Linked DNA regions of Homo sapiens: region 1 is linked to region 2. Evidence: fine-mapped expression QTL. A gene starts in region 2. The other region holds a variant in brackets. All regions are shown on one strand. Distances are from middle to middle. Region 1 overlaps IFT122 (intraflagellar transport 122). Region 2 holds the start of IFT122 (intraflagellar transport 122).

Region 1 (11,344 bases), 76 kb before region 2:
GAAATTAAGTTGCAGACAATAAGATGATTTGCTAAAATGTAGATGCTGATGAAAATAAGGAGCCCTTTTGTCATTATTGAGGCAATCTGTTGGCAAAATGTACATGCTAACGGTCTGACAGATCGGCGGACTCCAGCAGGCTGCCACGAACAACTCGGAGCCGTTCTGAAAGTAACAGATTTTTTTCCTTAGAAAATATATGTACATTCTCTTCCTCATCTCCTGGTGCTATTTACAAGGCATGAAATGCCATAAATAGGAATTCCGTGGTTACACAAGGCCCCCCCCACAAAACACAAACTTCATCTGGGCAAGAAACACATTCTGACAGTTTAACTCTTTATTCTCCTTCACAGCCCAGCAGACCCCAAGGCGGGCAGAGGGTGCAGGCCGTCCCCAGGATGCTGGTCATGGGCCAGGGTCATCCTTGCACCTGCGGCAGTAGGGGCAGCAGCCATGCTGAAGCACCAGCAACTCATAGTCCTCAGAATGGAACATCTAAGGGAAGACAGCTGTAAGACCAGGCTGAAGCCCTAGTGCTCATCAGCCCTACGCCTGGGGCCAGGACGCACTGCCTCTCAAGGGGAGGGGGCTTGGCAGTGGTCAGGGCTGGACACAGACCTGCAGCACCTTTGTTTGAGGGCTGGAAGGGGAGATGGGAGGGGGCTGTGGGGTTTCTTGTTTTCTGAGTGAAGGTCAAGGGCACATCACGCTTGCTGGGCCCCCAGGATTTGGGGAGGATGTGGACAGCGCAGGGGCCAGTGAAGTCCACTTTAGATGCACATGGAATGCAAGCAGGGGAGAGGACAGACAAGCCTCTGTCCCAACTTGGAGCCATGGATGTGCCCCTCCTCCCAGGGGCCACGCCTCCCAGAGGGACATTTGGGCAAGGGAAAAGTGGCCAAGAGAAGCACATGTGAGCTACCAGGGTGGCCACCTACCTGGAAGCAGGAGGGGCACATGGTAATGGAGGCGTCAGGCAGCAGTGAGCGGAAGTATTGCCACCTCAGGGGTGGGGGCCATCGCTTGATGAGGACATCCCGGCGGCTCATGGAGCGCAGCACCAGCCGGCTCACCACCACTGGCACGAACTCTGAGCCACCTTGCTGCAGGGTGGGCGGGAAGGAGGCACAGTGTCCTCACTCAGCCACAGTGAGACATCTGTGTGGATTATGATCCTGGAATCTTTGGCAGTGGTGAGAGAGGACCTGCTTCCTAAACCCAGGTGACCCTAACAGTGGCAAGCTCCTCCCACCAGAGCTGAAGCTGCCTCCCTGTCCACAGACCTGCGCCCTTGGCCATGGTCCCTCGGGGGCAGCCATGGCTCCCACACCCCACAGGAAGGGGTCCTGCCCCTCCTTCGTGCCACCACATCTGGAAGTTCTGGCCAATCCTCCTCCACCACTGCGCTAGCTGAGGGTCCCCATGTGCACAGGAGAAGGGATGGAGGCTGCCCTCCTGCAGGTCACCCAGAGAGGCACCCTCACCTCAAAGCTCAGCTTAGCTGTGAACGGGTCCTCATCTCCGATGGAGTCCTTGGTCTCCACTAGCCGCAGAATCTGGGAGCCTGGAGGGATCTGGTCAAGGATGGAATCAGAAGCAGAGATGGAGACAGACCCTAGCCTCCACCCTACACCCCTGTGAGAAGACTCAAGGGCAGCCAGACCAGTGGAAGAGTTTTCCAGGTGGAGGAACAGAGGGGGCTCAGGCCAAGGAATCAGAAGGAAGGGACTCTGCTGGCCCTGCTGCCCTCACCCATTCCCCTCGCAGGCCACACACACCATAGCTCCCAGGGCCAGTGGGAAGCACATGCGGGCCCTGTGAGCCACTGCGGGTAGGCACGGAGGGGATGGGCCCAGGGATCCTGGAGAAACATTCAGTGGCTGCTGGGGGTCTGCGGGCACTTGTGATGGAGCAGACAGGGGCGAGAGTCCCTGCTGACCCCAGGGCGGGTCAGACTCACCTGGAGGTCCCTGGAAACCGCCCCTCTCCCACAGTGGTGGGGCTGGTAACAGAGGCCAGCAGGGGTCCTGCAGGGAGGCCCAGGACATGGGGACTGCTGGTACCAAGTTGGAGTGGGCACAGCACCCACCTGCCAGCACCATAGCACATATCATCTGTGGCACCTGAGGGAGCCTGGGTGGCAGAGATGGGTCCGTCTTTCCTTCAGCAAGCAGCTCTCTGAGCTTCCCTCCTCCCAGTGTGGCCCCTGGGGGTGGCAGCACCTGGGAGCTGCAAGGAAGGCAGGCTTACAGCCCCCAGGCCTGCAGACTCAGTCAGTGCAAGGGAGCGAGGCCTCAGGCCACGTGTGTGCTGTTCCCTGCCAGAAGCCCCTCCCATGTCCAGCCTGCAAGTGTGGCCTGCCCTGGACAACTGCCCTGGTGCATCCTCCTGGCCAAGGGGCAGGCTGAGCTGTGCCCCGGGGCTTTCACTGCCACAGCTGAGAGGAAAGCTGGCTGTTTCTGGGGGCTATAAGGCTGAGGGGATGTGGGGCTGGCACTGCTCCTGACATCTCTGTGTTATGGGGGCACCACGGGGCTGCCAAAGAATGAAGTTGCCCAGAGGACAGTGCGGCCAAGAGAGGCAGAGCCAGCCTGTGACCGACCAGACTGAGCGCTGGGCCAGGAAGCTTCCTCTCCTGCTTGGGGCTTCCTTGCACACCCTTTGCTTGTTCAGCTTGTCAGTTTTGGACTCTGTCACTTGCATGCGAAAGTGACTTGAGTGGAAGAGCTGGGGGCCAACACCGACATCATGACATCATGTCCCATGTTGGCTATGCAGGAGCTATGCACAGACAGAGGCACAGCCAGTGCCTTTTAGGGGTCAGGGGAGGGTGGGAGACCCACACGGGAAGACCAAGGTGCCACTTGCCACTTCTGGGTCCTTAGGCCCTGGCCAGCTGTCTGCCCATCTCTGATCCCTGTCCCTGTCCCATGTGGGCCTCTCCAATCTCTCTGGGAACACAGGGCCAGGCTCAGCATGGCCCGCGATCCCCTGGGACTGGGCCCTCCTACTTCCCGCCTGTCCCCAGACCCCTCACACAGCCGCACACACAGGCTCTGGCCAAGGGCATGGATACTGTTGTTTGCAATCTCTAGCTGTCTGTCATCCCGCTTGGGTCTCAGCACCTCCAGGTCGATGAGGGAGATGGCTTCTTCATCAGTGATCCCTTCCTCCAGGTAGAACTCAACCAGGTGTAGCACGTCTGGAGGGCATAGAGAAAGGGCTGAGGGGGCTGGAGGCCTTGCAAAGGACTTGCCGCCAGGCAGGTGGGGTGACCACAGAGTTGCTTCTCAACCCACTGGCAGCTTCACCAAAAGCAAGAAGAGGCAGCAGGGGCAGTCTCTGTATGTGTGTGCAGGAGCAGTCTCTGTGTGTGTGTGTGTGTGTGTGTGTGTGTGTGTGCAGGAGCAATGTGTGTGTGTGCAGGGGCAGTTTCTGTGTGTGTGTGTGTGCAGGGGCAGTCTGTGTGTGTGTGTAGGGGCAGTCTCTGTGTGTGTGCAGAGGCAGTCTCCGTGTGTGTGCAGGGGCAGTCTCCATGTGTGTGTGCAGGAGCGGTCTCTGTGTGTCTGTGTGCAGGGGCAGTCTCTGTGTGTGTGTGCAGGGGCAGTCTGTGTGTGTGTGTGTGTGTGTGCAGGAGCAATCTGTGTGTGTGCAGGGGCAGTTTCTGTGTGTGTGTGTGTGCAGGGGCAGTCTGTGTGTGTGTGTGTAGGGGCAGTCTCTGTGTGTGTGCAGGGGCAGTCTCCGTGTGTGTGCAGGAGCGGTCTCTGTGTGTCTGTGTGCAGGAGCGGTCTGTGTGTGTGCAGGGGCAGCCTCTGTGTGTGTGTGTGTGCAGGGGCAGTCTCTGTGTGTGTGTGCAGGGGCAGTCTCTGTGTGTGTGCAGGAGCGGTCTCTGTGTGTCTGTGTGCAGGGGCAGTCTGTGTGTGTGTGTGCAGGGGCAGTCTCTCTGTGTGTGTGTGTGTGTGTGTGTGTGTGTGTGCAGGAGCAATCTGTGTGTGTGCAGGGGCAGTTTCTGTGTGTGTGTGTAGGGGCAGTCTCCGTGTGTGTGTGTGTGTGCAGGGGCAGTCTCTGTGTGTGTGCAGGGGCAGTCTCTCTGTGTGTGTGTGTGTGCAGGAGCAATCTGTGTGTGTGCAGGGGCAGTCTCTGTGTGTGCACGCAGGGGCAGTCTCCATGTGTGTGTGCAGGGGCAGTCTCCATGTGTGTGTGCAGGGGCGGTCTCTGTGTGTGTGGGCAGGGGCAGTCTGTGTGTGTGTGCAGGGGCAGTCTCTGTATGTGTGTGCAGGAGCAGTCTCTGTGTGTGTGTGCAGGGGCAGTCTCTGTGTGTGTGTGCAGGGGCAGTCTCTGTGTGTGTGCAGGGGCAGTCTCTGTGTGTGTGTGTGTGTGTGTGCAGGAGCAATCTGTGTGTGTGTAGGGGCAGTCTGTGTGTGCACGCAGGGGCAGTCTGTGTGTGTGTGCAGAGGCAGTCTCCGTGTGTGTGCAGGGGCGGTTTCTGTGTGTGTGTGTGCAGGGGCGGTCTCTGTGTGTGTGTGCAGGGGCAGTCTCTGTGTGTGCAGGGGCAGTCTGTGTGTGTGTGTGCAGGAGCAGTCTGTGTGTGTGTTCAGGGACAGTCTGTGTGTGTGTGTGCAGGGGCAGTTTCTGTATGTGTGTGTGTGCAGGGGCAGTCTGTGTGTGCGTGTGTGTCTGTGTGTGTGTGTGGCCTCTGCTCAGCTCCTGGGAAGGGGCTTCTGATCCTCTGTCAACATCAAAGGAGCTGGGCCTTGATAACCTATCTCAGCCTCCTGGTCTGAATGCAAAGCCATCGGACTCTCTTTCTGGGGCATTTGGTTATGTAAAGCCCTGCGCCAGGTTCCCAGAGTGGGTGCTTCAGCTTTGGGCAGCAGTGGGTCCTATCTCTGGGAACACCGACAGTGACTCCTTGTGTCAGGTAGGTGGGCGTCAGAGTGTCCTCATTTCATAAACAGGGACATTCAGAGGCCTTTGGCCCTTGCCCAACGTCCTGAGGCCAGAGAGCAGTGGAGTGAGCCTGGCTGTCCACAGGCTGTCCCACCCACATGCTCAGGATGCAGGGACTCACCGTAGGAAGAGGCGGAGAAGATGAAGGGCTGGCGGCAGTTGATGCAGACGTTGCCCAGGTTGTTGAGCAGCGGGTTGTTGGTGGAGCAGCGGTAGCACAAGGGCACCAACTCCTACAAAACAGCCACGGACTCCCGAGGGGCCGGGGCAGGCACGTGTCCTCCTCCCCCTGGACTCTGGCTTC[A/G]GGCCCCTGGGGCCTGGCTGCCAAGAGGAAAGGCCACCCGGGTGGGCAGGCAGGGAAGGGGCGCCGGGCCCAGGAGCTCCATGCCATGGGGAAGCAGGATAAAGGCCTGCCGAAATACCCAAGCCCTGTCACTTGGGTCCCCGTGCCCAAGACACCTGCACAGGCAGCGCTCAACGGCACTTTTCCCCTGGCAGGAATGACAGTGGCCGCTGCCACCATTAGCCAGCCATTTACCATGCTCCGGGCACCGTGCGGAGCACGTGGACTATACTGGCTCATTTAGCCTCACAACTACCTGTGGGAAAGGGGGAACCCAAGGTGCAGAAAGATGGAGACAGAGCTAGGAGAGGGTGGAGCCGGGATGTGAACCCAGGTCTGTCTGAACCAAGTCCTTGCTCTGAGCTTGAGGGAGGATGTGTGAAAGAAGGAAGCTGGCTGGGTTGAAGGAATGTGGGTTGGGAGTGTGGGGTAGATTTGCTGGAGAACTACAGCCTGGTTCCAGAAAGGGCAGAGGTTTCTAGAGTAAGAGTCAGCTCTGGGGCCAGGCCTGGGGTAAAGGCAGAGCCACCTGGGCACAGAGGTGTGGGGCTTGCCTAGGGGAGGGCAAGGAGCAAGGGAGGCCAGGCTGAGGGCTGAGGCCGGGGCCGGGGGCTGTGAGCGGGCGCCAGGTGGACTGCGGGGAGAACAGGAGGTGGACAGGGAAGCACAGGGGAGCTGGCATGGCCAGGCTTGAGCAGGGGGCACAGAGCCTAGAGGGAGCTGCAGCTGTCTCTCTTCAAACGGAACCCAGGCCAGGCAAGAAGGCATGAGATGGCCTCAAGGGAGAGGAGAAGCCACCTGCCCAAGGGTGCTGCATCCTCACCTCACTGTCGTGGAAGGGCTTGGCGCGGATGGTCAGGGTACCCAGCTCAATGGACTTTTGGAATCTGGCAGGGATGTACAGGCCACGCAGCTTGTCATAGGCGTGCCGGGCCAGCCTGTAGGCACCGAGGGCCTTGCTCTGCTTGGCCAAGGTGAAGAGTATTTTCCTGCCGTGAACAGGGTTAAGGACAGCAGGGGCAACACCAGGCCCAGGAGCTGGCACTGCCTGTCCTTGGAGTGAGCCCCAGGCTGGAACACAGCTTGTGCTGGTGCCGGGAAGGCAGAGGAAAGACCGTGAGGAAGGCTCTGTGCGCTTGTGAGAGGTGAGTGTACTTCTCGGATGGCAAGGCCCAGGAATTTTTCCAAAGATAAAAACAGCGTAGTTTCCATTAATACTTTAACCTTGCTTAGCATCTCTGGGCCTGCTGATGGCTCATCTTATACCCTGACTAGGCCAAAATGGCTCTTCCTGCCTCACCAAACCTGCCAGCCAGGCCCTCCTAGGATGCCTGGCACAAAGGGCACTCTGCTCTCACCCTGCCAGGTGGGGCCTGGTCCAGACTCCCTGGGGAGCCACCCTCAACCCTGCTCTGAGGCCCCTGGGTGTACCCCACTCTGTCTGCACACCCTTCCCCGAGGGCCTGGTGGGCAGTTTCTGAGCGGCAGCCTGTGCTCTGGGGCCCCCTTGAAGCTCCTCAGCCAGAGGCTGACGAGCCTTTGTGCTCTCCTCTCAGGTCACCTCCGATGTTGGCTGCCCCCAGGCCCTCCTGCCCTTCCTCCCGCATCTCTCCCAGTGTTCCTGCTCCCGCCGTCTGCAGTGCAGCCCCGTCCACTTCAGCAGTTCTGTGGAGAGTTTCCTTCTGTGTCTCCAGCATGACTCCTCAAAGTCAGGGACTGTCAGGAGCCATTTCCAGGTCCCCAGGGGATGGCACAGGGTAAGGCTCAGGGTAGAGGTTCTATCAAGCTGTTGACTCAAACAGAACTTGCTGGAAAGGATGAGTACAGGTGCTCAGCCCCCACAGGCATAGCCCTGACTGCTCCTACGGGGAAAGACGGAGACGCATGCAGCAGAGGTCTGACTCCAGGAAGGCACCCCTTGATTTGAGGGTATTTCCCCTGAAATGTACATAATGGGCCTGGAATCCTCTAGCGAGGCCAATTCTTACAACAAGGAGCTCTGGGTCTTCTCCAGTGGAGTGGGTTTTCCTTACAGAGGGAAGGTGGGGCTGCGGCTGGGAAGGAGCTGAGAGTACAGTGAGATTTAGAAAAGAACAGGGACAATTATGTCTCCTGACATCCAAGACCTTAAAAATCTGGATCATTGCCTGGTAATGATCCAGTATCTGGCTGCACAGGCCCTTCAGGCACCTGCTCTGCTTATGGTACCACTGTGGCCCTCGATGGCTACAGAAGAGAGGAAAACCCAAAGGTAGGCTCTCAGGCCTTGGGTCCTGCTGCCTCTCCGGCCCCTCCCACCCAGGGTCCCCTCACCCTCTCCCACATGCCTTGCTTGCCTCTCCATATGCTGGGTCCTCCCCTGGAACATCCACTTGGCCATCTTCCCTGGCTGCCTCAGCTTGCATGATGGACATCTCCTCCTCCAGGTAAACTTCCCTGACCATGGCCCTGACCTCAGCTTCATTCCACCCTCAGACACAGCACACATCCACCAAACCAGACCCTAACTTGTGACCTCCCTCTTTGATGGCAGCTTTGCCACCTGGTGCCTGGCCCAGGGCTTGGGGCACAGAAGGTGCTATGTATACCTGGGCTGAACAAACACTCCCTCCTCCCCAGTCTGGAGAAGTGCCCAAGGTTCCAAGCCTGAAGGCCTGGTGCTTCTTCCATTTCAGTCACACCCTCATCTGTGGGTTCTAGGAGGGATTGGGACAGTGTGTTGGCCAGAGACCCACTGCTGGGTTCAGCTCAGAGAGCCCTGAAAACTCATCTTCTCTTGGCCTGGGCCCCTGGGCCTCCCTGCTGAGCCTCTATAGCCAAACAGCAGCGGGAGGGTGAGTTCTCTGTCTTCCCTGAGGGTTGCTGAGAGAGGAAGGTTCTGCCAGGAAAGTGCTCTGGAAGGAATTTCTTGGGGCCATTAGACAAGAACGGTGGTGGGACGGAGGAGGGATAAGAGAAAGGATACACTTTAGAGATGCCCGAGGGGGTGTCCTTGGGCAGGCTGTGCAGCAGGAACCTGGAGATGTTGAAAAGAGTTTCAGGACGATGGACACTGAACGGATCTTCCTGCAGTGAGAGAAAAGCAAACAGGGATTGAGTTCTTCAAGAGCTGCTGCTGGGCCAGGCCAAAAGGCAGACACCAATAATTCTGAGTGACATCAACAAGAGCGGCTCTGATTATTGAGCACCTACTCCTACTGTGTGCTGAGCGCCATATAGCCACTGTCTCATCTGGTCTTTAACATAATAACCTTGTGGTATGCATTTTTATCCTCACAGTACTGATGAGGAAACCGACACCTAGATAGATGATTTGCCCAAGTCACCAACTAGAACAGAGCTGAGCTGCTGTTCAAACCCAGGTCTGATTCCAAAGCCCAAGAATGTCTTTCTTCCAAGCTGTACTGCCTCTGGAGTTGGTAATTATTCCATTTCTCTGAACTACTCAAGTTGTCTCCAATTAGCTCTAAAAGAGAAGACCTTCTATGCAGCTTAGGACATAACCACTGATTCATATAAGCCTGTCTTTCAACAGAGGCATTTAGCCCTCTCCAGCATGAACCCACATGCCTCTTCTGTGCTTTCCAACAGCAGCTTGACTGATGTGCCACCAAACGAGCACACATGCGGAGTTCCTCAACTGCTGACCCATTTCCCTGGCTCCTGGCATAGGCACTAACAGGAGGCAGTTAGCACAGATTAGTGATTGGTCTTCGTACCTAGAGGCTGCCAGAAGCTCAGCAGACAAATAAGGAATTTTCTGTGTGAGGGTCTACAAAAGGTTAAGAATACCTTATTTTGAAGGCATCTGGCACACTGTATATAAACTGAGATTGCCCATTTCTAATAAAGCTTTAGATGGTGAGGATTACAGCAGGCCAGTAACTCCTCTTTCTTGTGAGCACTTAAGAAGGGTCTTGTGAGGCCCTACTCATCACTGAGCCACCAAAGCTTAACCCCTAATTGGTCTGAACTCCTGAGGACTCACTTTGCTCTACACTTCTTCAGTTCAGAGCTTAGCATTTTCTATTTAGTTCACACGTAAATTTCTATACCTTTTGTTAGCTCCAAGAACCCAAGAAAACCTGAGACCACATCCTTTCCAGGGTAAGAACAAGATGAACTCTGCCTGTGGTTCTACTGCACTAGGTAGGGAAGCTAAGTAACGTCCCAGAGAGAATAGGTAGCAGGGGAGTCCTTTCCTCTGGGAAAGATGCCATGTATCCAGGAAGGACCTGAACTTCCCTTTCCAGTCTTGCCCTGAATCAGTGCTGCTCTGCTGGGCCCTGGATGCTGAACCACAAACTACCACTCACCTCCAGGCCTTTGCACAGGCTGTGACCTTTGCCACAAACACCCTTCCTAATCCTCCTCCACTTCACTTGCCCCATTTTTATTCTCTCCCTCCTTCTGGCTGAGAGGACACCTCCTCCAGGAAGTCTCTTCACAGGCCTCTAAACGTTTCCCCTGAGGGATTGTCCTGTTTGCTAGACTGGGACTGACTGCAGGGACAACGTTTTGTTCACCACCGTGTCACCAGGTCTCATCACAGGGTCTGTCACGTAGTAGGCATTTATTGAATGAAGGAATGGCCCAATTAATAAGATTCAGCTGGGATAAGAGCCAGGGCCCCAGCTGGTCTGAGGCCCCTTAGCTCCTAGTCCCATGTAGGTCCTGGAGCAGAGCTCAGCTGTTAGAGACAGGAGCCCTCAGCCCCATGCCCCAGGTGAGGAAGAGGACAGGGAGCAGCGAGAGAAAAGTCTGAGGGAAGGAGCTGAGAGCCAGGCTCTGGAGTGGCTTGGGCAAAGTGAGGCTGAGCTGGGCCCTGACTTCCAGCCTAAGTTGAGTCTGGGCTCCTTTTGTGGTGGTTTCTCTCCAGGTGAGCACCTGATAAAGATGAGGGACCCTGAGGGGGTCTCGTTTCAGGAAAGCCAAAGACTGTAAGGGAAGATGAGGTCCCTTGAGACCACTGACCCTGCTGTGGGAAGAGATGTAACACTAGACTGACGGCATGCACAGAGCCTGTCAGGAGTCCTTCTTGCCAGACTTTCCCAAGAGGCAAAAAATGTGCTGAGAAGTCAGCACAGATTAGAGGGAAAGAAATGCCCAAGGTGGAAGGCAGGGCATTTGAGAGGTCAAAGAACGGCGGGAAGGCTGGGCGTGGTGGCTCATGCCTGTAATCCCAGTGCTCTGGGAGGCTCAGGCAGGAGGATCACTTGAGTCCAGCAGTTTGAGGCTGCCATGAGCTATGATCATGACACTGCACTCCACCTTGGGCGACAGAGACCTCATCTCTGAAAAAAGAGAAATGCTAGATGCCCAGCTGGAGGGAGCAGGTCAGGGAAAGCTGGCGTGAAGCCTTGCCTGGAGCAGCAGTAAGGATAGCTGCCACCTAGGGTCACTCTGTGCTAGGTACTCTTCCAATATTAACTCGTCTAATCCTCAAAACAATCCCATCAAGTACATAGTGCTGTTATCCCTATTTTATAGAGAAAGAAGCTGAAGGCCAGAGAAGATAAGTAACACAGTGTCATTTGTGTGTGAGGACTCTCGAGTTTACCCACTAAACCAACATACTAGCCTGCTTTCTCTAAAAGGAGACAGGGAGGGAAAGGCTAGGAACACAGGCTCCAGTGCCAGACTACTGAGACTCACATATTGGCTCTGGAATTTGCTGTTTGATAGTAGAATACATTCTTAAATGTGGTTATGTTATACATCATTTCAACGGGCATTTCTCGCTTTATGTTTTTTTGCTAATGAGTTATTACTTACTGTTTATTTTAGACTATGCAAATGATGTTAGACAAAAAACAAATTCAAGCAGTTTTCTTATTTGAGTTCAAAATGGGTCATAAAGCAACAGAGACAACTCGTAACATCGACAACGCATTTGGCCCAGGAACTGCTAACAAACATACAGTGCAGTGGTGGTTCAAGAAGTTTTGCAAAGGAGATGAGAGGCTTGAAGATGAGGAGCATAGTGGCCGGCCACTGGAAGTTGACAACAACCGAGAGCAATCATCGAAGCTGATCCTCTCACAACTA
Region 2 (11,344 bases):
TGAGCCACTGCATCCGGCCTCAAACCCAGGCAATCTGGCCTGAAGCCCATGTTTTAACCATTATGCTATGTGGCTGCCATTATCATTGTTGGCATATGTCAAAAAAAGGTATTATTACCTACTTAAGGCATTACATGAAGAATTCAGAAAGCTTTTAATATGGCTCTGTTGACCTGACGCTTCCTTTAATAAAAACTCTTCACAGTTATTCAATATTTAAGAATTGTTAAAGAGTGTAAACTTGGCCAGACATGGTGGCTCACGCCTATAATCTTAGCATTTTGGGAGGCCGAGGCAGGCAGATCACGAGGTCAAGAGATGGAGACCATCCTGGCCAACATGGTGAAACTGTATCTCTACTAAAAATACAGAAATTAGCTGGGCGTGGTGGTGCACACCTGTAGTCCCACCTACTCGGGAGGCTGAGGCAGGAGAATGGCTTGAACCTGGGAGGCGGAGCTTGCAGTGAGCCGAGATTGCGCCACTGCACTCCAGCCTGGCAACAGAGCGAGACTCTGTCTCAAAAAAAAAAAAGAGTGTAAACTTACATTATCTTATTTGATCCTTACGAAAACATAATGTAGTAGACAGGACAGGCACCACTGCCCCGATTTTACCAATGAGGAAACTAAAGTACAGAGAGGCAAGTTGTTTGCTCCTAGTCACAGAGCTGGCTGATAAAGAAGCTGGAACAAGGATGATTATCACACTCTTTCCAGCTGGGCAAACTGAAGCCCTGAGTTTTTCAGCTTCCTCACCATTATGTGGTAACAGACCTGGGCCTTCCTTGTTTCTTACGCTTTCTTCCTCTGAGCCTTGGCACATTTCACATTTTGAGAAGCAGCATGGCGGAATAAAAAGTAGGGGGGACGTGGGGCCAGAAAAGCTGATCTCCTATCTGAGCTTTCATTCTCACCTACAAAACAAGGATAGAGAGGTAGCCTCCTACTCACGGGGTGCACAAGCCAGTCTATCCAAAGCGCCTGACACTTGTGGATTGCTATGGTGGATTATTAGATGTTGGAGCAGTGTCTGCACCTCTCATCTAAAGTCATCCTTGGTATGTGGCTTCCTTTCTGCCTTGTACACATATGAGCTCATCAAAGTGATTCCTGTGTGACCTCTTCTTCATAAGGGTCATTTTGGGTTGAATTATCACAAAATCATTTCTGAATGTCTCATTTGAGCCAAGCCTGAACATTCTTCCTCTTAGATATAAAAATTCATTTTCTCTGAATATCTTGAAATTTGCCTTCCTAAAATATATCATATATGTCTGATTTGCCCCAATCTAAACTCTTAATGTACTTAGAATCTGTACATTTCAGTTTAGCTCTGACTTATACAGTCTTCTTTACATTGTGTTAGATATTATCTTGCCTTGCCCCTTTAATTATAGTCATACACAATTTGAAAGCAATGGCCATGTTCTACATATTTGTGGACCCACAGTGCATGGCACTGTCCTAGACATGTAATAAATATAATTATGAAATCACCAGAAACTCAGAATTGGAAAGGACTCTAGACCTTGTCATGCAGTCCATCTGGCCCATCAGGGCAAGAATTCCTTATAGATGGCCATCTAGCCCCTGCTTGAACACTCCAGGGCTGGGAGCTCACTCATTTGCAGGCAGTCTATTCTACTGTAGGATGGTTCTCTCTCCACCTGCCTCTTTTTATAAAAGAGATACACTGTCAGAAGACACACTGTCAGATTCCATTGCAGAGATACAGAGGAATCCTGCAAATTGTCCTCTGACAACCCTGCACCCACCTCACTGTAAACCAATGTCCCACAGTGCCTCTCCAATTCCTGCATCATCTGACCCAGCCCCACTTACTCATTTTGTAATCTTAGGTAACTTATGTCACCTCATTAAATCTCAATTTCTTCATCTTTAAATGAGATGAAAATTCCAACCTCACATGTTGTAGAGATTAAACATGATAACACCTATAAAGACATGTGGACATGTGGCCTATAGCAAGTACTCAGTAAATACTAGCTGGCATGAATGGAGAGTTACAGCAGATGCTAGCCTGATTGGAATACAGTGGGCTAGCCTAATAAGACATCCTGGTTGAGATGAACCTGGAGCTGTGCATTTAAAGGAGAAAACTAGGGAGTTCATAGAATAAGGGAGCATTTGGGAAGGATCTTCGGGTAGAAAAATAGAGTTTTCAGCTCAACCTAAAAGTATAAATTTAAATGTTGCAAGCCTGATGGGGAGGAGGGTCAGGAGGACCCTCTAGCAAAATGCACGACTTGACATGGAAAGTAATTGGGAATCACTCTAGGTTTATGAGAAGTAGAGTAACAGGATCACAGCAGCAGGTCTTAAAAAAACAGAGTTCCTGCTGCTATGTGAAGGTTAAAATAGAAGCAAAGGAGCAGACCGGGAGACAATGGCTGATTTGGATGTGGAGGACTAATCTTTGACATCTAGGATTTTTTTAGTTCTACTGTCTTTTTTTTTTTTGTTTAGTTTTTTGTTTTGTTTTCATTCTGGGCTATCAGCTGGTATATCTAGCAGCCATCAGGATTGATGGTCTATAGAACCCCTACATCCCTTATCCTAATAGGTTGTCTCAAATCTGTAATGGGCCAAAAACCAGAAAACCAATCTTTATTCATCATTCATTCACGTATGAATACATCTACCCACAGTATTTCGTTTTATATATATCTAGTATTTTATTACTATCCATAGTAACAACAACCACTGACCTGTCTCTAGAATAATTTGGAAACGAGTAAGACATAGCCATTGCCTTTAACGGGTTTATTAGACTTCTGAATTAAACAGATTTAAAAAATTAACTCTTATGCTCAACAGACTCTGGAAGTACCACAAGAGAGAAATGAACAAAATTCTGTGCCAGGGGTTGAAAACAGAGCAAATCAGGCTGCATTCGGCCAGCAAATGTTTTATTTGGCCCACACGGTGTTTTGTTTTTTTTTCAGAGTGGATGCTAACATTTAAAAATTAGGCCATTTCACATAAAAACCCAGATTCCTAGCTTCTGGTAAAAACAGGAAGAGCTGAGCACACTAGGCCAAATTCCTGCATGGTGGTAATTGGCAGGAGCTGAGCAGCAGCTGCCCCTTTTAGGCCGAGCATGAGCTCTGCAGTTTGCCACACTCTATTACTCTGACATTGAAGCCAAATGTTCAGTTGCCAGCTATCATCAGCTTGTGCTATAGGTACGTTTATAATAAAGTTAAAAGTAAAATGATTTTTTAAAACTCAAATCTCTATTAAAAGTACAAATGAAAGATTCACTGATACGGCTGTGTTTCAAGAAAAATGGGGTACAGAATACAAGACTATTCCTAGGGAAAACATACAATTCCTAGTGTTGAAGATGCAAATAAACATCTCCCATTTATGTTACCTGCCTGTCTCCTGCAGACATTTGAGTTTGCCACGTCTGTAACATAAGGAAAAATTAATGTAGTGGCTGAGAGCGTTGACGTTGGAGTGAGGAAGACCTGAGCTTGAAAGCTGGTTCCACCCCTCACTGTGTGACGCTGGCAAATTATCCACCCTCTCTGGGCTTCAGTTTCCTCATACATAAAATAGAGGAAATTATAGTACCTACCTTAGAGAGTGGTGAAGACACAACGAGATAAAGGATATGAAGTGCTTAGCCAGCACCTGGCACATAGTGTCAGCTACCACTAGTGCCGAACACAAAAGAGAGGACCCGTCTCCAACGTGAGCCTTGAAGGATGTTCAGGATTTCCGTGTGAGATGAGGAGAGACGGCATGCTTTACACAGAGAAAGATCTCAGAAGGGACAGAACCAAAGACAAGTAACCTGCTCCAGTGGCCAGAACAGAGGCTTCACAACAATGCTGAATGATTTTCAAAGTCAGGCCAAGACCTATCCCATAAGTAAGAATATGACAAAACAGACTGCTATGTTATAGATTTAGGCGATAACAATGGAATAGGACATTAAATAACTGAATCAAAAGGTGACAAAGTCATTCCCCTTCAGTTCTTTTTCAGACTTCCCAATTAGGAGAGCTTGTGTTTGGTGCTCATTTTGAGCACCTTTCTGATCATACCTGCCCATCTCCAGTTTTAGAGAAACGAGATCTCAGGTTTAAAGGCTCCCTAGCAACAATAGCTAGCTACAGCTTGTTCAGTTTTGTTTCTCCCTACTTTAAGTTTTACTTTTACACTTAGAGCAAGCGACGCTGATTTTATCTTAACATTTAGAGCAAGTGACACTGGTTTTCATAAATGGAGTAATAAAGTTTCCTTGTAAAATGTGAAATCATAATTAAAATAAATGAGACAATTTAGAGAAAAACGTCAAGAAAACAAGAGTATGGGTACTATGTGGATGTGGCAAGAACTGTGAAGCTTGAGCAGCTTCGTGCTGTCTCGTGGGTGTGAGATGAATCCAAGGCAGCGACAGGGCCAGACCGTGAGGGAAGAGCCGCCTCCACCCGCCACCACCTCAGGCGCGGCACCTCCCTTTGCCGCTCTCCAACCCTCGGGAGTTTCTCCAACCGCCAAGGGGCGGGAGGGCGACCCTGCAGTCTCCCAGGCCGGGGTTCAGTGCCCTCGGCCCAGGCAGCAAGCCCGCTGCCCCCCTCAAACACGCTGCAGCGGCTCGCGCACTCCCCGCGAGGACTCGACCTCCTGCTCTTCGCGAACCGCCCCGCTCCTCACCAGTGCTCGGCTTTATCTCTCCACGTCAACACGGCCCTCATCACGGCTTCCCTTACGGCTCGGGCTCCTCCTACCCGCCTCAGCGTCTGTCTCAGCAACCGCCTCACTAACGGTCGCCACTCCACAAGCCACTTTGGCTACCTGCGTTACCCCTGGCAACGTACATGCGCGGTAAGCTGAGTGCGAGGGCGCCTTGCTCCGAGCGCGCATGTCCGAAAGGGAAAGCCAGAAAAGCAGCAAAAGCAATGGTGGCACTGGAGCCCCTAAGGCGCCAGCGCAACCAGAGCGCGAGCGATTGGTCGGGGCGTGTGGGGGCGGTGCGTCTTCCTCGAGAATGGATTTGATTGGTGGAGCGTGGAAATGGCGGCTGTAGCCGAGGGGGCGGCCGGAAAGCAGCGGCGGCGTCTGGGGCGCTTTCGCAACATTCAGACCTCGGTTGCAGCCCGGTGCCGTGAGCTGAAGAGGTTTCACATCTTACTCCGCCCCACACCCTGGGCGTTGCGGCGCTGGGCTCGTTGCTGCAGCCGGACCCTGCTCGATGGGCACGACTGGGCTGGAGAGTCTGAGTCTGGGGGACCGCGGAGCTGCCCCCACCGTCACCTCTAGTGAGCGCCTAGTCCCAGACCCGCCGAATGACCTCCGGTAAGTTACTGTCCCCTTTTGGGCCTCAGTTTCACCACCTGTAAAATGGTATCGGGAGAGTGGACAGTGTGTGGGCCTTTCTAACCTTTGACAGAGGGTCGGCAGAAACCTCGAAGCCCACGGGTTTAGTTACTAGGGTCTGGAGCCCAGGTGCTCTTCCTGTGCGATCAGCCCTGGGGTGCGCTCGACTTCCTCATCTAAGATGACTAGGGAGACTGGGGGGGAGCCGGGAGGTTTTGTGAAAGAGGTCCCCTTGGGGTTGGAGGATCCTAGGAAGTCATTAGACTACGTGTGTGATAGGAGGTTAAGATTTACCTACTTTTTTCAAAATTTAATACTAAGAACTACTTTGAAAGAGGCATCACCTTCTTTTTACAGAGTCTTTTACCGAGACTTTGAGATGTTAAGTAACTTGCTGCTAAACTTACAGCTGGTAGAGCTGGAATTTGAGCCCCAGTCTCTTAAGAGTTTGTGCTGATTCCACCAGGCTTCAGTATTTTTATCTCTAAAATTGTAAACAATATCATTTCATAAGATCCATCCAGCTCCTCAAAATTATTTTACCCCAAATTACATCAGAAAACCTTGATTCTAATTCTAGTTCTTGCAGTTTCCCTATTTGTAGAAAAGAACTTGGGTTAAATGATCTCTCTAGACCCATCCACCTTTTACAATCTGTGGTTTAGTGATTAGGATACACTTTACTGAAATTTTTTTTTTAATTTTAAAAGTATGTTTTCATCATAGAAGACACATTGGAACTTTAATGAAGTTTTAGTTTAGTGGGTTTTTTTTTGAGATGAGGTCTCGCTCTGTCACCCAGGCTGGAGTGCAGTGGCACAATCATAGCTCCCTGAAGCCTTGACCTGCCGGACTTAAGCAGTCCTCCTACCCCGGCCTCCTTAGTAGCTGGGACCACAGGTATGCTCCACCACGCCCGGTTGCTTGTTTTTTTTTGTTTTTTTGGGTTTTTTTTTTCATTTTTTGCAAAGACGAGGATCTCACTGTGCTCTCCAGGCTGGTCTCAAACTCTTGGGATCAGGTGATCTTCCCACTTCCTCCTCCCAAAGTGCTAGCATTACAGGAATGAGCCACCTTGCCTTGCCAGCTTTTTTCAATAACAGTATGGGGGAGAAGTATTAGACCAAGATTTGGTAGACTTGGGTTCTCGTGTCTGTTCTGCAAGTAATTTAACCTGTCACTCAATTTTATCAATAAATTGAGAGTAAACCTTATTGTACCTACAAGGTTACCATGAGGATCAAGAATGAAGAAGATTCAAAAATTCTGTATCAAATTATTTACCTTCTGGAGGATTACATCTGATGAAAGTGATACACACTCTCTCCCAGAAATTTTACATTATGTAAAACTTTTACCTCATTTATTTGCAGAGAAGACAGTGTAACTCACTGATTTATTTAAGCATTTTCTGGTGCTTAAGAGCTTAGCTATTGGTTCATATTCTCAAATTTATGGTAAGTGCCCCCAGAAATCTTTATAATAGCCCTACTCAGTGATTAATCCGAAAAGTTTCTAGCTTGACTTTTTTGTTGTGCAGAGATTTCCAACACCTTTTAACCTGTGCTAGAGGATATGGGAAGCTTTTGGAAGACAGGAAAATACTCCCATAGCACAAGACTGGTCCACACTGACTTTAATCTCCCTCATTTTAATATGGATAATCTATGTGGTTCCTGCATTGTCATGGATTAAAACTGAGTAGGCAGTGGAAGATAAATTTTAAATAAGTTAATCACTTAGACTTTGTTTTTCCAGCAAAGAAGATGTTGCTATGGAATTGGAAAGAGTGGGAGAAGATGAGGAACAAATGATGATAAAAAGAAGCAGTGAATGTAATCCCTTGCTACAAGAACCCATCGCTTCTGCTCAGTTTGGTGCTACTGCAGGAACAGAATGCCGTAAGTCTGTCCCATGTGGATGGGAAAGAGTTGTGAAGCAAAGGTTATTTGGGAAGACAGCAGGAAGATTTGATGTGTACTTTATCAGGTAAGCATATAAGATGGTAAAGATAGTACAGCCAAATGATTTTGTCTGGGCAGGTAGTGGGAGCATAGCAGGAATCTTAGCTTCTTTATATTTTTACCATAAAACCATTGCAGATTCTATTCTTTCAATGTTGCTATTAATTACATCAAGTGATTTGGGGAAAATTACATACATTTTGTCCCTCCTTCTGTGAATGGTTAACGGGTAGGTTGCATTTTAGTTATATTTATAAATTTATATTGTCATAGAGGAAACCATTTAAAAGTGCCATTTATCACTCTTTTTCATTTTTAAATGACAGATACCTATGGCAACATTTGGAAATTAATTAGAAATCTGAAATGTGGTCCAGTTCTTTTAAAAGTCCCTTCTATTTACTAGCAGTAAGTTTCCTTTAATATCATTTTCTAGCCCACAAGGACTGAAGTTCAGATCCAAAAGTTCACTTGCTAATTATCTTCACAAAAATGGAGAGACTTCTCTTAAGCCAGAAGATTTTGATTTTACTGTACTTTCTAAAAGGGGTATCAAGTCAAGATATAAAGACTGCAGCATGGCAGCCCTGACATCCCATCTACAAAACCAAAGTAACAATTCAAACTGGAACCTCAGGACCCGAAGCAAGTGCAAAAAGGATGTGTTTATGCCGCCAAGTAGTAGTTCAGAGTTGCAGGAGAGCAGAGGACTCTCTAACTTTACTTCCACTCATTTGCTTTTGAAAGAAGATGAGGGTGTTGATGATGTTAACTTCAGAAAGGTTAGAAAGCCCAAAGGAAAGGTGACTATTTTGAAAGGAATCCCAATTAAGAAAACTAAAAAAGGATGTAGGAAGAGCTGTTCAGGTTTTGTTCAAAGTGATAGCAAAAGAGAATCTGTGTGTAATAAAGCAGATGCTGAAAGTGAACCTGTTGCACAAAAAAGTCAGCTTGATAGAACTGTCTGCATTTCTGATGCTGGAGCATGTGGTGAGACCCTCAGTGTGACCAGTGAAGAAAACAGCCTTGTAAAAAAAAAAGAAAGATCATTGAGTTCAGGATCAAATTTTTGTTCTGAACAAAAAACTTCTGGCATCATAAACAAATTTTGTTCAGCCAAAGACTCAGAACACAACGAGAAGTATGAGGATACCTTTTTAGAATCTGAAGAAATCGGAACAAAAGTAGAAGTTGTGGAAAGGAAAGAACATTTGCATACTGACATTTTAAAACGTGGCTCTGAAATGGACAACAACTGCTCACCAACCAGGAAAGACTTCACTGGTGAGAAAATATTTCAAGGTATCCAGTGCTTTCAAGCACTATTAAACATTATGTGATGAGAAATTTATAATGCTGCATCTTGTATTCGTGCCCATACATGGTTAAGATGTGAAAATAGAGCCAAGAAATAGGGCCAAATATGAGATACCAGTTGATCCTAATACTTTATCTTAAACTGATATTCAAGCAGTTTCCTATGGCAGAGAGAAAATCGGCTGACTGCTGTCGTGATGCCATGGCAAAGGAGAGTATTACTATTAACAGCTGCCATCGTCTCTCCCTGGTGCAGCAGCTGGGACTCTCCTCCTCAGCAGTGCTTTCCCTTCTTCCCATCCTCTTTCCAGCCAGTAATCTTAAAACTTGAAGGAAAATTAAAAGCCTTCACTTGTGAAAAATTTAGGGAAGGCTTCTTATATACATAAATGAGTGGAGAATAGTTGGTGTCTTCACACCCCTCCTGATACTTACTACTAAGTGTGACTTCCAATTTAATTTTGTATATATCATAGTCATTTTTATCTTCTATTTTAATGTAATGCTTCTCTAAAATGCTTTAGAGCTCTAAATAATTCAAAAGTATAATCACATAGTTCATCTATTATTTGTAATATGCTCTTAATACAGAATTCAGAACTTAGCAGTTTTGTCTTTATAATACCTCAGTGAATAAGAGATAAAAGGGAGACCTTTTGAGCAGCCCTGTATTAGTTATTCATTATGCCATTATGGTATAATGAATAACTCCTTTAAAGAATAATAATTTTACTTAAACTCCTGTGGGGAAACAGCCTGGAGAAATTTGTGAAGCAGGAGATTAGGTTTGATTCTTGTTCCCAGTTCTACCCATGATTTTATGTCTTTTCTGTGCCTGGAGTTTCTCTGCCTTTAACACAAGATGGCCATATATACCTAGGAACTGCATAAGAATTCTTCAAGTCTGTGTCCTAGACACTGAGCTTCTTGAAGAAAGCTTTGAGGTTTATGTAGATTTATTGCTAGCAAAATGGGCAAATATTAAAAACTTTTTTTTGTGGTAAGAGTCTAGTTCTCAACATGAGATGAAGTACTCTTAGTACGAGGTGTCCATGAAATAGTGAAGACACCCATTGGCTTAGCTAGAAATTGCCAAGTAAACCTGGCATAAAGGAGACTAGTAATTATTCATAGGAGCCCACAGAAAAAGTTGTCAAATCAGAGCAGTCAGAGCAGTTTCCTTTGTTCTTTTTTTTTTTTACTCTCTACTGGGCTTTACCTACTCAAACTAAAATAGCGAAAAAACAGTAGTCTAATTATCTGGAGACCTGGATACTTGTTCCAGTTTATAGTCAATCCCAGTATCATTTTGGGATGATTGCTTCATTTAGAAGCTTCACTTTCTTCATCTGTAAAATAGAGGTAACCATCCTGACTAGTCCTGTTTTTCACATCAAAAATATTGTAAAATGAGAAGTGAAAAAGATGCTATACAAATGCAAGGTATTATTAACTGATATTCAAATTGCGAGGGTATGGTTAAGGAGTATTACATGTGATTTTAGAAATTTGAGAAGTCTGATAACACTGGTTCCCAATAGATAGAGGTTCTCAATAGGTAGTTGTCTCAGGTGTTCTAGGGTTCAAATTGTAGGTTTTTCTGCAGATTCTGTTTTGTCTGTATCCCTTTTTTTGGTAAGCGTAAAAGTAAGTGTTCACTGCAGAAATTTTGGAAAATACAGAAAAGTAAAGAAGGAAAGAAAAATTAGCACTTGGCAACAACCATTATATCATTTTGGCTTATTTCATTCTTAACTTCTGTATTGTTATTTATATATGTTTCCCCTTTTTTATAAAATTGGGATCATATGTAGACTCTTGCTTTTTCATTTAGAAGTTAATAGGAAAATATTCACAATAGTCTAAAAAATACTTTAATGACCACATTATACAAATGCATCGTAATTTAAAATATTCCATACTGCCTTTAATTTTTCAATACTATAAACTCTGAACATAAGTCATAAAGAACTAGTGTCACAGAGTGGTTAAAGGTGAGGACTCAGGAGCCAGACTGTCTGGATTTGAATTTTAGCTGGGACACTTAGTATCTGTGTGATCTTGAGCAAGTTACTTAGCTTCTCTGTGCCTCAATGTCCTTATCTGTAAAGTGGAGATAAAAATAGTACCAAGTTCATGGGTCATTAGTTAGATTAATTGGGTATTTATGTAAAGGGCTTAGAATAGTGCCTGGCATGCTTTGTAATAGTGTTGATATTATTATTTGCATCCCTCAATATTGCTTTAAGCTAAACCATAGACTCCATAAAGTGTTTACTTTTCCTTTTCAGAAGATACCATCCCACGAACACAGATAGAAAGAAGGAAAACAAGCCTGTATTTTTCCAGCAAATATAACAAAGAAGGTATCCCTTTCCCAATCAGAACAGCAAATTCTAATTCCATTTTGGGTTTTCAATTCTGATGCACTATGTTTGTTTAGCTCTTAGCCCCCCACGACGTAAAGCCTTTAAGAAATGGACACCTCCTCGGTCACCTTTTAATCTCGTTCAAGAAACACTTTTTCATGATCCATGGAAGCTTCTCATCGCTACTATATTTCTCAATCGGACCTCAGGTTTGGGGATTATTATCATCTTTGTCTTAGTAGAGACAGTGTGGTAGGGAGAAAGCACTGAATTGAGGCCTGGGTTCAAAGTCCATTTTGAGTGTGTCACCTGGGATAGGGCATTCCCCCTTCACCCTTAA

The links. PIP is the estimated chance that this variant, and not a neighbour inherited with it, causes the effect.
Region 1: its variant is fine-mapped to the expression of IFT122 in whole blood (TOPMed, PIP above 0.99).

What each region holds. Positions count from the first base shown.
Region 1 is chr3:129,509,330-129,520,673 of GRCh38, reverse strand. IFT122 (intraflagellar transport 122) reads right to left here. Exons shown (of 30, transcript NM_052989.3): 24 at 8,262-8,362; 25 at 6,120-6,285; 26 at 5,075-5,186; 27 at 3,080-3,205; 28 at 1,488-1,567; 29 at 942-1,106; 30 at 167-498. The coding sequence ends at 409. Among named protein-coding and RNA genes, the nearest start is that of RHO, 14 kb to the left of the region's middle. The variant A/G (reference allele first, on the strand shown) is at 5,258.
Region 2 is chr3:129,433,719-129,445,062 of GRCh38, reverse strand. It overlaps IFT122 (intraflagellar transport 122), which reads right to left and starts at 4,839. Exons shown (of 30, transcript NM_052989.3): 1 at 4,692-4,839. The coding sequence starts at 4,732. MBD4 (methyl-CpG binding domain 4, DNA glycosylase) reads left to right here and starts at 5,115. Exons shown (of 8, transcript NM_001276270.2): 1 at 5,115-5,333; 2 at 7,113-7,343; 3 at 7,755-8,602; 4 at 10,927-11,001; 5 at 11,079-11,213. The coding sequence starts at 5,230. RefSeq lists enhancers at 3,836-3,885, 4,286-4,335, 4,366-4,415, 4,566-4,775, 4,976-5,115 and 1 more.